Regions from separate parts of the Homo sapiens genome. Here all the other regions are linked to region 2. The links come from fine-mapping of genetic effects on gene expression. A gene starts in region 2. Each other region holds a variant in brackets. All regions are shown on one strand. Distances are between the middles of the regions.

Region 1 (4,126 bases), 21 kb before region 2:
GCCGTAGCTGTTAATCCGGGGGATGCCTTTCCCACCCATCCGAATCTTCTGGTCTGTCTGAGTCCCAGGGGGGATCTATAAAGAAAGAAAATCTGTGGTTTCCCCTGGTCCCCAGTTGCTCAAATAAAAAGTTTTCACTACATGAAGACAATCTTGATAGGAATTCCTTGAAAAGAACTACCACTGGCTCACGCTCCCATCACTTTGGGAGGTCGAGGCAGGCTGATCACGAGGTCAGGAGTTCAAGACCTGCCTGGCCAACATGATGAAACCCCGTCTCTACTAAAAATACAAAAATCAGCAGGGCATGGTAACGTGCACCTGTAATCTCAGCTACTCAGGAGGCTGAGGTAGGAGAATTGCTTGAACCCGGGAGGCGGAGGTTGCAGTGAGCCAAGATTGTGCCATTGCACTCCAGCTCTGGCTGACAGAGCAAGACTCTGTCTCGGCAGAGCGGTGGTGGAGGGGGTGGGTAAAAAAAAAGGCCGGGCGCAGTGGCTCATGCCTGTAATCCCAGCACTTTGGGGGGCTGAGGCAGGCAGATCACGAGGTCAGGTGATTGAGACCTTCCTGGCCAACATGGTGAAACCCCATCGCTACTAAAATACAAAAAATTAGCCAGGCATGGTGGCGCGTGCTTGTAGGCCCAGGTACTCAGGAGGCTGAGGTGGGAATCGCTTGAACCTGGGAGGCGGAGATTGCCACGAGCCAAGATCGCGCTACTGCACTCCAGCCTGGCGACAGAGCAAGACTCTGTCTCAAAAAAAAAAAAAAAAAAAAAAAAGAACTGCCACTGGGCTGGGCGCAGTGGCTCACGCCTTTTAATCCCAGCACTTTGGGAGGCCGAGGCGGGTGAACTGCCTGAGATCAGGAGTTGAAGACCAGCCTGGGAAATACGGTGAAACCCTGTCTCTACTAAAATACAAAAAATTAGCCAGGTGTGGTGGCGTGCACCTGACGACAAAGCGAGACTCCATCTCAAAAAAAAAAAAAGAACCACCACTTGGGTTTCTGGGCCAAGCCCGCCCACAAGCACATGGAAATGAGCTAAGTTGGGTCTGCCCAGAGCAGAGCCTGTGACTAGGATGAGGGGGCAAGAGTTTGGGCAAGTGAGCCCAGGAAGCAGGAGTGAGGGAGCAAAGCAGGAAAAGCCAATACAGGGTGCGTGGCTGAGGTCGCTCCCTGGCCCTTGGAACCACAGGACCCTGGAGAAGCCAGGGAATAGCCCCCAGATGGAGGAGAAAGCCTTGGCCCAAAATGCCCACCTCCTTCATGGAGGTTACCCCAAGGTTCCCCACAAAGAAGCTGGAGAAGGTTCTGAGGCGAATACAGAGAATGATGTGGCCTGGAGGTGGGAAGAGCTGGAGGGGCAGGTCAAGAGAGAGGTGGGGGACAGGTGCTGGCAGCACACAGGCAGCCATCACTGTGGCAAAAGGGATATGCACCGCCCGAGTCTTCTGCTCTTGGAGCCAGACACTGGACAGAAGCAAGTGCAGAGAGCACAACCCAGGGTGAACCCTTCTGTGTCCTGAATGCGCCCAGTTCCCAGGCCCCGCTAACCAGTGTGGGAGTGATGCCAGCCAGGAACTGCTTCCCATGCGATTATAGACTCAAGGCCTGTGGCTTGTGGTCCACACTCAAGGAGCAGCCTAAAATTCCTCATGTCCTCCCCTGTGAGTGCCCCCC[C/G]ACATGCTGGTCACTCATGGGTTCCAGGCCACTGGTCAGTTCTTTTCCATTTCAGAAAAAGAGCAATAAAGTACAGGGGTGACAAAGGTGTTCTCACACCCTCTTACCGTCACGTTGATCGTCTCGTACAGGCCCTGGGCTCTGGCTGTACCCCCAAGAAGAGCCTGAGCTATAGAAATAAAGAGGTCGGAGTGGATGTCTGCGCCGTCCCTCCGGAACACAGGGCTTTTCTGCACCTAAGGCCAAACATGACAGATGCATGTGAAGATAAGTCCACTGCAGACTAAACACCAGCTGCATGCCTGGCCAGGCCCAAGCTCAGACCTGACAAACTACACACCCCTTCCATACATAAAGTGCAGTGTTGAGGGAAAGAACTGTCCTTCCAACAAGGAGACACCATCCCAGGCCCAGGAATGACATGTTCTACATATTTCAACACTGCAATGTTCTACACACTTGAAATGCCGAAATGGAAGCGTGCCTGGATTTCCTCAGTCTCAGATCAAGCCATTCAATCGTGAAGGGAAACAAAAATGTAAAACTGGCTTTTGATTTTTTTTTTTTAATCTTACTTTAGCCAGGCACAGTGGCACACACCTGTAATCCCAGCACTTTGGGAGGCCAAGGTGAGTGGATCACCTGAGGTCAGGAGTTTGAGACCAGACTGACCAACATGGTGAAACCTTGTCTCTACTAAAAATACAAAAATTAACCAGGTGTGGTGGCGGGCCCCTGTAATCCCAGCTACTCAGGAGGCTGAGGCAGAAGATCCACTTGAACCTGGGAGATGAAGTTTGCACTGAACAGAGATCACACCACTGCACTCCAGCCTGAGCAACAGAGCGAGACTCCACCTCAAAAAAAAAAAAAAAAAAATCTTACTTTATTAGAAAGTATAGGCCAGCCGTGGTGGCTCACGCTTGTAATCCCAGCACTTTGGAAGGCTAAGGTGGGTGGATCACCTGAGGTCAGGAATTCGAGACCAGCCTGCCAACATGGTGAAACCCCATCTCTACTAAAAATACAAAAATTACCTGGGTGTAGTGGCGCATGCCTGTAGTCCCAGCTACTCAGGAGGCTGAGGCAAGAGAATCGCTTGAACCTGGGAGGTGGAGGTTGCAGTGAGCTGAGATCATGCCACTGCACTCCAGACTGGGCAACAGAGCAAGACTCTCTTTCCAGAAAAAAAAAAGAAAAAAAAGGGAAGAGTAAATAATATAACAAGCATGTCATACCCACAACCCAGTGGAGGTAACAAAATATCACAGGCCGGGCGCAGTGGCTCATACCTGTAATCCCAGCACTTTGGGAGGCCAAGGTGGGTGGATCATTTGAGCCCTGGGGTTTGAGACCACCCTGGGCAACATGGTGAAACCTCATCTTTACTAAAGATACAAAAGTCAGCCGGGCCTGGTGGCGTGTGCCTGTAGTCCCAGCTACTCAGGAGGCTGAGGTGGGAGGATCACCTGAGCCCAGGGAGTCTGAGGCTACAGTGAGCCAAGACTGCCCCACTGCATTTCATCCTAGGCAACAAAGCAATACCCCACCTCAAAAAATAAAGTAAAATAAAATAAAACATCATAAACACCGGTGAGTCTTGCCCTCCTCAGCTAACCACAACCCTGACTTTAACATTTATCATTCCTACAAGCTTCTACTTACTATGTATTTCCGTGTCCCTAAATAATACATAATGCCATCTCACAGGTTTTAAAACTTTACACAGATGGTCTCTGAGGCCCTACAGCCACTGGCAAGCTGCCTTCCATCCCTGCTGTCTGTACCTGCAACGCCTGGAGCATCCCTTGAGTTCAGCTCTCATTCTTTCCTTCCGACTGCCCTGCAGCAGCCTCTGACCACCACGGCTCACTGAGCCATTCTCTTGTTGGAGGAAGGCAGTGTCTTGCTACCATGGACAGGACTCTTGTGCACCCCTTTGTACCTATCGCCTGCTAGGCTTGTGTGGGTTTTTCTCAGGTGTACACATAGGAGGGCAATTGCCAGTAGAAGGCATTGTCTTCATTAATGTTTCCACCATCTCAGAAAACCAAGGTTTGCCCCTGTATACAGTATGTAAAATTGTAACTTTCACACTCACTGCCTCATCAACAATCTTATCATAAAAACACAAGATGTTTCCTGTATTTTTATGTGACCTGTATTTCTAACTTGTTAGCATGTTGAAGAAGTTGTCTTCTCTCCACACAAGGCACAGAATCTTGAAGGTAACAAACAGCTAAAAACCACATCTAGGTGGCCACTGTGCCCCTCAGAAACATGAATGGCGAGACATGTTCCTGTGAAGCTTTGATTACATGGGAGCAGCCTCAGCCACACCCACCCGAAGAGAGGAAAGGCCCAACAGAAGCTGTGCGGGGCAGGGCACCTACCCTGAACGTAATGAAAATTTCCCTTTTTCCCACAGGCATCCTCACGG
Region 2 (4,126 bases):
GAATGAATGAATTTTCAGACAGGTGCTCGAAGGGGTTAAATAATACACCCCGCTCACAGACGCTGGGGAAGTTCACCCCTGAAGCCCAGGCTCTTTTCTTTACATTGCATGAAGTAACCACAATTACTGATACTTTAATGATTGTCTACTATGTAACTATTACAAACTGGATTGCAACAGGAAGTTAGTTGGTATAAATTATCTTGTCAGGGCCCTTTAATTAATCTTTATAAATTTATAGATAGCTTAAATACCATTTGCACAAATTCTAGAGGACACAAAACTAGCACAATTCAGGTACGTACAACACACAGCACAAAACACACGGCATAAGAAAAGAAGGCTAAGCAGGGCACGGTGGTTCACGCCTGTAATCCCAGCACTTTGGGAAGCCAAGGGGAGGCGGATCACCTGAGGTCTGGAGTTTGAGACCAGCCTGGCCAACATGGCGAAATCCCGTCTCTATTAAAGATACAAAAATTGGCCAGGCGTGGTGGCGCATGCCTCTAGTTCCAGCTACTGGGGAGGCTGAGGCAGGATAATCTCTTGAACCCAGGAGTCGGAGGTTGCAGTGAGTCGAGATTGAGCCACTGCACTCCGGCCTGGGCAACAGAGCAAGATTCAGTTTCAAAAAAAAAAAGAAAAGAAAAGAAAAGAAAACATGACTAAGCACTTCAAGGCTTAATGTATAATTCAGTGTCATCTCAGGCAATGATATCAAGCCTCCACCTCCTTGTGACATTTATAAGTGGTTTAACATCTAAGCCTCAGTATCTTTATAAAATGGAATAACAGTGCCTATCATGTGGAAATGTGATGTAAGGGGAAAACCATGCCTGGCCAACAGTAAGTGCTCAATAAATGTCTGACTGTGTTATTATTACAATCACCAACTAAAGACTTCTAAAAAGATTGTTAACTGTGCCCTTCAATTAGCACCACGTGGTAGAAAGAGCGTAAACTATGACATGACTGCTTTGGGTTTGAGACAACTCTTCTAGTCTAACTCCATGACCTTGGGCTGGTCGATTCCTCCGTTGAATCTCAGTTTCTCATTCTTTAAAATGGTGATGACGGCAGGCATCTTGCAGGGTTGTTGTAACAAAGTACCTAGGCCTCTCCGAATGGCAGTTAGCTCTTCCCTTCCGCTACGGGCTAGAAGGTGGAGAGATGGGAAAGGAAGAGGACGAGGGAGCAGCGGCCTCCAGAAATGTTGACAGAGAGGTGAAGGTTCACGATCTACGGGGCGTTTCATCACCGCCGCCGGGGGCTCCACGCTTCTCTCCCTTCCTTGACGGCTGAGCAGCCACTGGGGCCTCCCCGCCTCCTGCCTGTCTGTGTCTCCGGCAATTGTGCATCCGCGTCGGAAGACACCCTCCACCCCACTACCCCTGCAGCCGTAGTCACAGCGAGGAGACTCACTCTTTTCTAGGCCCTGAAACCGCCACTCGGAAGTTGGAACCTGCCCTCACCTGTAAGGCTGACACCAGGTCTCAATGTCAGCAGCGCTCGGGGGCCGCAAGAGGTCAGGGAAGACGCAAAGGCGGGGACGCTCAGCTTGCGGCTCAGCCATGCCCCCACCACGCCCTCCCTGGGCGGCCGGGCCCCTCTACCCGATATAGCCGGCAGCCGCGGGGTCCCCACAACCACCAGCAACCAGCGTGTGGAGCACCGCGCAGCCATCTTGGCCCGGGGACTCTGCGCCTGCGCCGCCCGGCTCTAGGTGGGCCTCGCGGGAACGGCGGGCGCGCGTAGAGGCGCATGCGTCGCGCACGCGCAGGCGCACCGTACGCGTAGCCGCAGCCAACGCGCCTTCCGGGTAGCCATCGCCGAAACGGGGTTTGCTCTGAAGAGTGTTGTTAGGTAGACTCGCCGTGCAGAACCTCGCTATTCTGTGCTAGACAACCAATGGGTGTACGTTATCGGTGTAAGGACGTGGTTGAATGTAGCCGAACTTAAGTGGTCCGAGGGGTCTGGCTAAGGGCGAGACTACAAGTCCCAGCATACAACGCGGTCCTCCGTCGCGCCGCTCCCAGCATGTAGTGCGTGGTTTCCTCCTGCTGACCCTGAGACTTACGACGAATTGCGTGAGTTTTACTCATGCCGTCTCCGCGCGCTTCTAGTAAATCTTCGTCGCCACCCTCAGAATCCTGGCCGCAGTCTCACTGTCTCTTAGGCTGATTCCCCACCCGCCTCCTCTAACAAGACTCAGTTCTCCTTTTTTTCTTTTTTTTTTTTTTGACAGAGAGTCTCGCTCTGTCGCCAGGCTGGAGTGCAGTGGCGCGATCTCAACTCACTGCAACCTCCTCCTCCCGGGTTCAAGCAATTCTCTGCCTCAGTCTCCCGAGTAGCAGGGATTACAGGCGCGCGCCACCGCGCCCGGCTAATTTTTTTGTATTTTTAGTAGAGACGGGGTTTCACCATCTTGGCCAGGCTGGGTCTTGAACTCCTGACCTCGTGATCCACCCGTCTCGGCCTCCCAGAGTGCTGGGATTACAGGCGAGAGCCACCGCGCCGACCTCAGCTCTCTCCTTAAGCGTGTTAGCCTTCTCCAAACCTGCAGTGAACTTGCTGGTTCCGAATGGGAGCCGTGCTGCCCAAAAACTAAATTAGTAAAACTTGTGAGCGCCTACTGTGTGTCATGCATGTTCTAGAATATCGGGGATACAGTGATGCCTGATACACCATCCCTGTTCGGGAGGAGCAAACAATGACTCGAGAGAGGCTCCTTAGCAACTAACAATGTTAAATGCTATCACAGGAATAAGCACTGTTACAGTCATACAAGGTGAAGGAGTCATTCCATTTCTAAAATGGGAGAGAGGAAGTTTGGGATGTCAGGGCTTCTAAGAGGTAAGATTCAAACTGAACATCGATGAAAAGTGTGTCAGGTAGGGATGGAGTATTCCAAGTAGCCTGAACTTAAGAAACAAATGTCTAAGATATGAAAGTGTTTGCCTTCTTTGCTTAAACCCTAAATTTAAGAGTATGTGATGAGGCCGGTCGCGGTGACTCACGCCTGTAATTCCAGCATTTTGGGAGGCCGAGGTGCCGGCGGATCACGAGGTCAGGAGTGCCAGACCAGCCTGGCCAACATGGTGAAACCCCGTCTCTACGAAAAATACAAAAATTAGCCAGTCATGGTAGCACGCACCTGTAATCCCAGCTCCTCGGGAGGCTGAGGCAGGAGACTCGCTTGAACCCAGGAGGCGGAGGTTGCAGTGAGCCAAGATCGCGCCACTGCACTCCAGCCTGGGCAAGAGAAACTCCATCTCAAAAAAAAAAAAAAAAAGAAAAGAAGTGGTGGCCGGGCGCAGTGGCTCACGCCTGTAATCCCAGCACTTTGGGAGGCCGAGGCGGGCGGATCACCTGAGGTCCGGAGTTCGAGACCAGCCTGACCAACATGGAGAAACCCCGTCTCTACTAAAAATACAAAATTAGCCGGGCGTGGTGGCGCATGCCTGTAATCCCAGCTACTCCGGAGGCTGAGGCAGGAGAATGGCTTGAACCCGGAAGGTGGAGGTTGCAGTGAGCCGAGATCACGCCATTGCACTCCAGCCTGGGCAAAAAGAGCGAAACTCTGTCTCAAAAAAAAAAAGTATGTGATGAGATGAGGCTAGGAAGGGAGACCTGACCTGGTTAGTCTTGCAAAGGACTTTCAATTTTCACACTCCCACCATCATAACCACCTCAAGCAATGGGGAAAAAACCTGAGGATTCTTGTTTGGATTTAAAACAAACTGTGCTCATAAATCTTCACCCCCATCCCCAAAGCCTGGGAATCTGTGCTACTCCCCCTCCCCGCTACTCCCAGCATTGTACACCAAATTTTTGTGTACGTGGATGTTAATTTGGGTAGATACCCATAGCTTTCGTCAAATTCTCCACAGGCATTGAGACTCGAAGATTAAAAACCACCGGTCCTGCCAGGCACGGTGGCTCACGCCTGTAATCCCAGCACTCTGGGAGGCTGAGGCAGGCGGATCACCTAAGGTCAGCAGTTCGAGACTAGCCTGACCAACATGGAGAAACCCTGTCTCTACTAAAAATACAAAATTAGCTGGATGTGGTGGCGCATGCCTGTAATCCCAGCTACTCGGGAAGCTGAGGCAGGAGAATTGCTTGA
Region 3 (4,126 bases), 28 kb before region 2:
ATTTTGCTGTTGCCAAGGCCGTCCAGAGGCTCTGCGGGTGGGAGCTCAGTGCTGCTGTTCTGGAATCCTCCCGTCTCCCAGGTGCCCTGGCCCTTGGAGGGGCTGCTGCTTCCCGGCCTAGTTTCCAGTGGATCTTTTTCCTGAGCCAAAGAGATAGGCTGTTACCTTATACTCAACATTTCAAGGGAACACACCCCTGTGGGGAGCGTCTGTTAATCCCTGGAAAGCAGCTGTGCCAAGAGAGGGGCGAGAACCCCACTTGCTGAGATGAGCATAATAAACCAAAGTGGGTCCCAAGATGACACGGCGAGCAAGCGCTACCCCTGGAGCAGCCCCCAGGCTTGCACAGCCCTGCGCTGTCCACGCAGGAGGGCAGCTTCCAAGCAGGCAGGACGTGAGGAGATCTGAGTTCTAGGCCTGGCTCTGCCTGACTCGCCCTCTGTGACCATGGGCAAGCCGGACCCACCACTGCAGGGGGGCTGTACAACAGCCCCAGCATCGCCACCTCCCCAGGAAGAAGACACAGCCAGAGGCTGGCCGCGGCAGCCCAGCCAGTCCTGCACTACAGGCTGATTGCCACGTCATCTATTCCCTAGGCTGAGAGGCCAGCTCCTAGTGGAGCTAGGTTTACCACACCTTGGACTGGCACCTGTTCCAACTCCTGGGGGTGGGGGCACAATATTGGTTAAAGTGGGAGAAAACCAGGATTAGTTCACAGAGGAAAACAAAGGGAAAAAAAACCTCCAGGGTTTTCCTACCTCGGCTGGGATATCATGAGGTAAACATTTTCTTAAGTTTGGAAAGGAATCCCTCCTCGTCCTCCCCAGCCTCACGCCTAGCCTTGCTTCCTGCGGAGCTATCCATGGTGCTGCCACCTGGGCACAAACAGCAGAAAGAACTGGCGTCATGGGCCTGCACTTCCACAGTCACATCCCAGGGCCCACCTACCCCCGCCTGGCCACCCAGGGGCCCACGTTCAAGAAGCGGCCAAGTGCCACCTCAAGAAGAGTGGGGGCCACTCCTAAGATGGCACAGGATGCCTCACCTTGCAGACGACTGAGGTGAACAGGCCACTCAGAGCCTGAGGGTCTCCCAACTGCTCTTTCAATCAAGGACCCACAGCAGGGAAACAAGAAATAGAGACGGACTATGACAGCTGTCTCTATCTGAGCAACAGTGACAAAAACACAGTCAAGTGCCAGGCACCTCCCAGGCCAGGCCATACACTTCCTTACAGGCAAATTTCACAGATGAAAAAACAAAAAAAGGAGGCACAGAGAGGTTACAGGGTTTACCCAAGGCCACAGAGCCAACAAGCGGGAGGGAGGACTGAGTGCGAGCCCATGCAGTCTGACTCCAAAGCTGAGACTCAACCACCATGCTGTTGGCTATAAGAAGGTAAATAATGACTGCCAAGAAAAACCCTACTCTAGACCAACTGGCCAGATTCCATGCTGCTGTGTGCGCAAAGACCCTGCAGAACAGCCCATGTGGGAGTCACGGCCACGCACAATCCTTTGTCACAGGCACTCCATCTCATCCCTCACATCAGCAGTCTATCTCCCTGAGCAAGTTGTCCCCATTTGGGGCACCTAACCTAAATGCTCTCAACCTAGGGAAGCTGTGCTGCAATTTCTTTAGGGCCCAGGCTGACACCATCTAGAGGTACTTTCTCACACAAACGTGTTACAGATTTGCCAACTACTAGACAAGGAGTGCACACTTTTGTTGTGAGTTAGAATATAGACCTGAACTTGGCATGTTAATTGTAGAGCTCATTTTTAATGTGCTCAGAGACCTAGGCCACGCACAGTGCATAAAAGAGTAAAGGCCTCAGTCTAAGTAAGAAGGTGCCTTCGCTAGTGAAAGGTCCAAAGTTTGGGGCCACAGGTCCCCGGGAAGGGGTGAGGGAGGCTACATAAAACAGAGTGAGACCCAGTCTCAAAAAAGAAAAGGCCGGGCACAGTGGCTCACGCCTGTAATCCCCGCACTTTGGGAGGCCAAGGCAGGCGGATTGCCTGAGCTCAGGAGTTCGAGACCGGCCTCGAACATGGTGAAACCCATCTCTACTAAAATACAAAAAATTAGCCAGGGGCGGCATGCACCTGTAGTCCCAGCTACTCGGGAGGCTGAGGCAGAATTGGTTGAACCCAAGAGGCAGAGTGCGTTGCAGTGAGCCGAGATCACGC[C/T]ACTGCACTCCGGCCCGGGTGACAGAGTGAGACTCCGTCTCCAAAAAAAGAAAAAAAAAAAAAGAACAACAAGGAGCCATACTGTGTCTCTCACTCAAAAAGTCACATAGTAATTGCAAGCCCCCCCAGTTCCCTCTCTGTTCGCCAGAAGATGGACCTGTTTATCCCTGCAAGTGCTGAGTCTCTAAGCACACCATGGTCTTTCTGGGAGACCGGGGTCAGCTCTTAAGGTTTTCAGCAGCTACATTAAGATACTAAACGCATCAAAAACTATGCTGGTCAGGCACAGTGGCTCATGTCTGTAATTCCAACACTCTGGGAGGCCAAGGTGGGAGGATCACTTGAGTCCAGGAGTTTGAGGCTGCCGTGAGCTATGACTGCACCACTGCACTCCAGGCTGGGCCACAGAGCAAGACTCTGCCTCAAATAAATAAATAAATCCCACTGTTGCTTAAGTTCTTAGGACATGAGAATTATATGTCCTGTAATACTGTCATATGTGGATGCAAAACTAACTGTCTTCACAGTATAATGAGAGACTTAACCACCCACAGGCAGCAGACTGACATGTGACGGTGTATGCTTAGGGACAGAGTCTTGCCCTGGCACCCAGGCTGGAGTACAGTGTCGCTGTCATGACTCACCGCAGCCTTGAGTACTAAGGCTCAAGTGATCTTCTCATCTCAGCTTCCCAAGTAGCTGGTGATAGAGGTGCATACTACTTTGCACCTGGCTAGTTTTGAAATTTTTTGTAGAGACAGAGTCTCGCTATATTGCCCAGGCTGGTCTCGAACTCCTGGGTTCAAGTGATCTTCCTGCATTAGCCGCCCAAAGTGCTGGGATTATAGGTGTGAGCCGCTGCATCCGGCCTCACCAAGATCTTTAAAAGGAAGAGCTGACAGTGTCTTGCACACAGGAGAAGACATCCTGGCTGAGTGAGGGAACAGCTGAGTGAGGCTGAGTGATCAGGACAAGTAACCATGGAAGTGACAAAGGATCTCAGTGGGTGGCGGAATCAACTTTCAACTTACAGTATCAGAGAGAGGGTCAAAACATCAACTGGTGACCAGTAATACCCAACCTCCAACAGAGTAAGCAACACCCACGAACCCACCCAGGGCCCGGCCGTAGCACACCTCAAGCTACCCTGATGGGCGGGAGGAGGGAAGGACAGCTGTCTATGGAACCAATCTCGCATGTTATGTGATTGTAGGGTTTGAGGAAGGAGAAGCCACAGGTGCACTGATTAGAGTTCCGGGGAATAGCTACTCTATTACCACTTCTATTTTAGTTCAAGAGATACAACAAGAACAAAAGATAGTATACATATACACAGTATATGTACCAAACCATTAAAATAAGTGACATTTGGAACCTGGTTGGGCTACAGAGTTTTGTGGCAGCTGCTTTTTTGTTGTTGTTTTTTTGAGACAGAGTCTCGCTATGTCACCCAGGCTGTAGTGCAGTGGTGCAATCTTGGCTCACTGCACCCTCTGCCTCCTGGATTCAAGCAATTATCCTGCCTCAGCCTCCAGAGTAGCTGGGATTATGGATGCCCACCACCATGCCCCGCTAGTTTTTGTATTTTTTTTTTTTTTTTAGTAGAGACAGGGTTTCACCATGTTGGTCAGGCTGGTCTCAAACTCCTGACCTCGTGATCCACCCTCCTCGGCGTCCCAAAGTGCTAGGATTACAGGCGTGAGCCACCGCGCCAGGCCCTTTTTTTTTTTTTTTTTTTTTTTTTCAGAGAGTCTCACTGTCACCCAAGCTGGAGTGCAGTGGTGTGGTCTTGGCTCACTGCATCCTCTGCCTCCTGGGTTCAAGCGATTCTCCTGCCTCAGCGTCCTGAGTAGCTGAGATTACAGGCATGCACCACCATACCCAGCTAATTTTTGTATTTTTAGTAGGGATGGGGTTTCGCCATGCTGTCCAGGCTG

Evidence for each region. PIP is the estimated chance that this variant, and not a neighbour inherited with it, causes the effect. A credible set is the group of variants that fine-mapping cannot tell apart.
Region 1: its variant is the best candidate, but not a certain one, in a credible set for the expression of DNAJA3 in fibroblasts (GTEx, PIP 0.70).
Region 3: its variant is the best candidate, but not a certain one, in a credible set for the expression of DNAJA3 in whole blood (INTERVAL, PIP 0.84).

The regions. Positions count from the first base shown.
Region 1 is chr16:4,444,682-4,448,807 of GRCh38, reverse strand. DNAJA3 (DnaJ heat shock protein family (Hsp40) member A3) reads right to left here. Exons shown (of 12, transcript NM_005147.6): 7 at 4,080-4,126; 8 at 1,794-1,922; 9 at 1-75. Among named protein-coding and RNA genes, the nearest start is that of DNAJA3, 21 kb to the right of the region's middle. The variant C/G (reference allele first, on the strand shown) is at 1,687.
Region 2 is chr16:4,423,439-4,427,564 of GRCh38, reverse strand. DNAJA3 (DnaJ heat shock protein family (Hsp40) member A3) reads right to left here and starts at 1,697. Exons shown (of 12, transcript NM_005147.6): 1 at 1,473-1,697. The coding sequence starts at 1,683. LOC124903635 (a long non-coding RNA gene) reads left to right here and starts at 1,776. Exons shown (of 3, transcript XR_007064963.1): 1 at 1,776-2,087.
Region 3 is chr16:4,451,560-4,455,685 of GRCh38, reverse strand. It overlaps DNAJA3 (DnaJ heat shock protein family (Hsp40) member A3), which reads right to left. Exons shown (of 12, transcript NM_005147.6): 11 at 759-875; 12 at 1-140. The coding sequence ends at 772. Among named protein-coding and RNA genes, the nearest start is that of NMRAL1, 21 kb to the left of the region's middle. The variant C/T (reference allele first, on the strand shown) is at 2,190.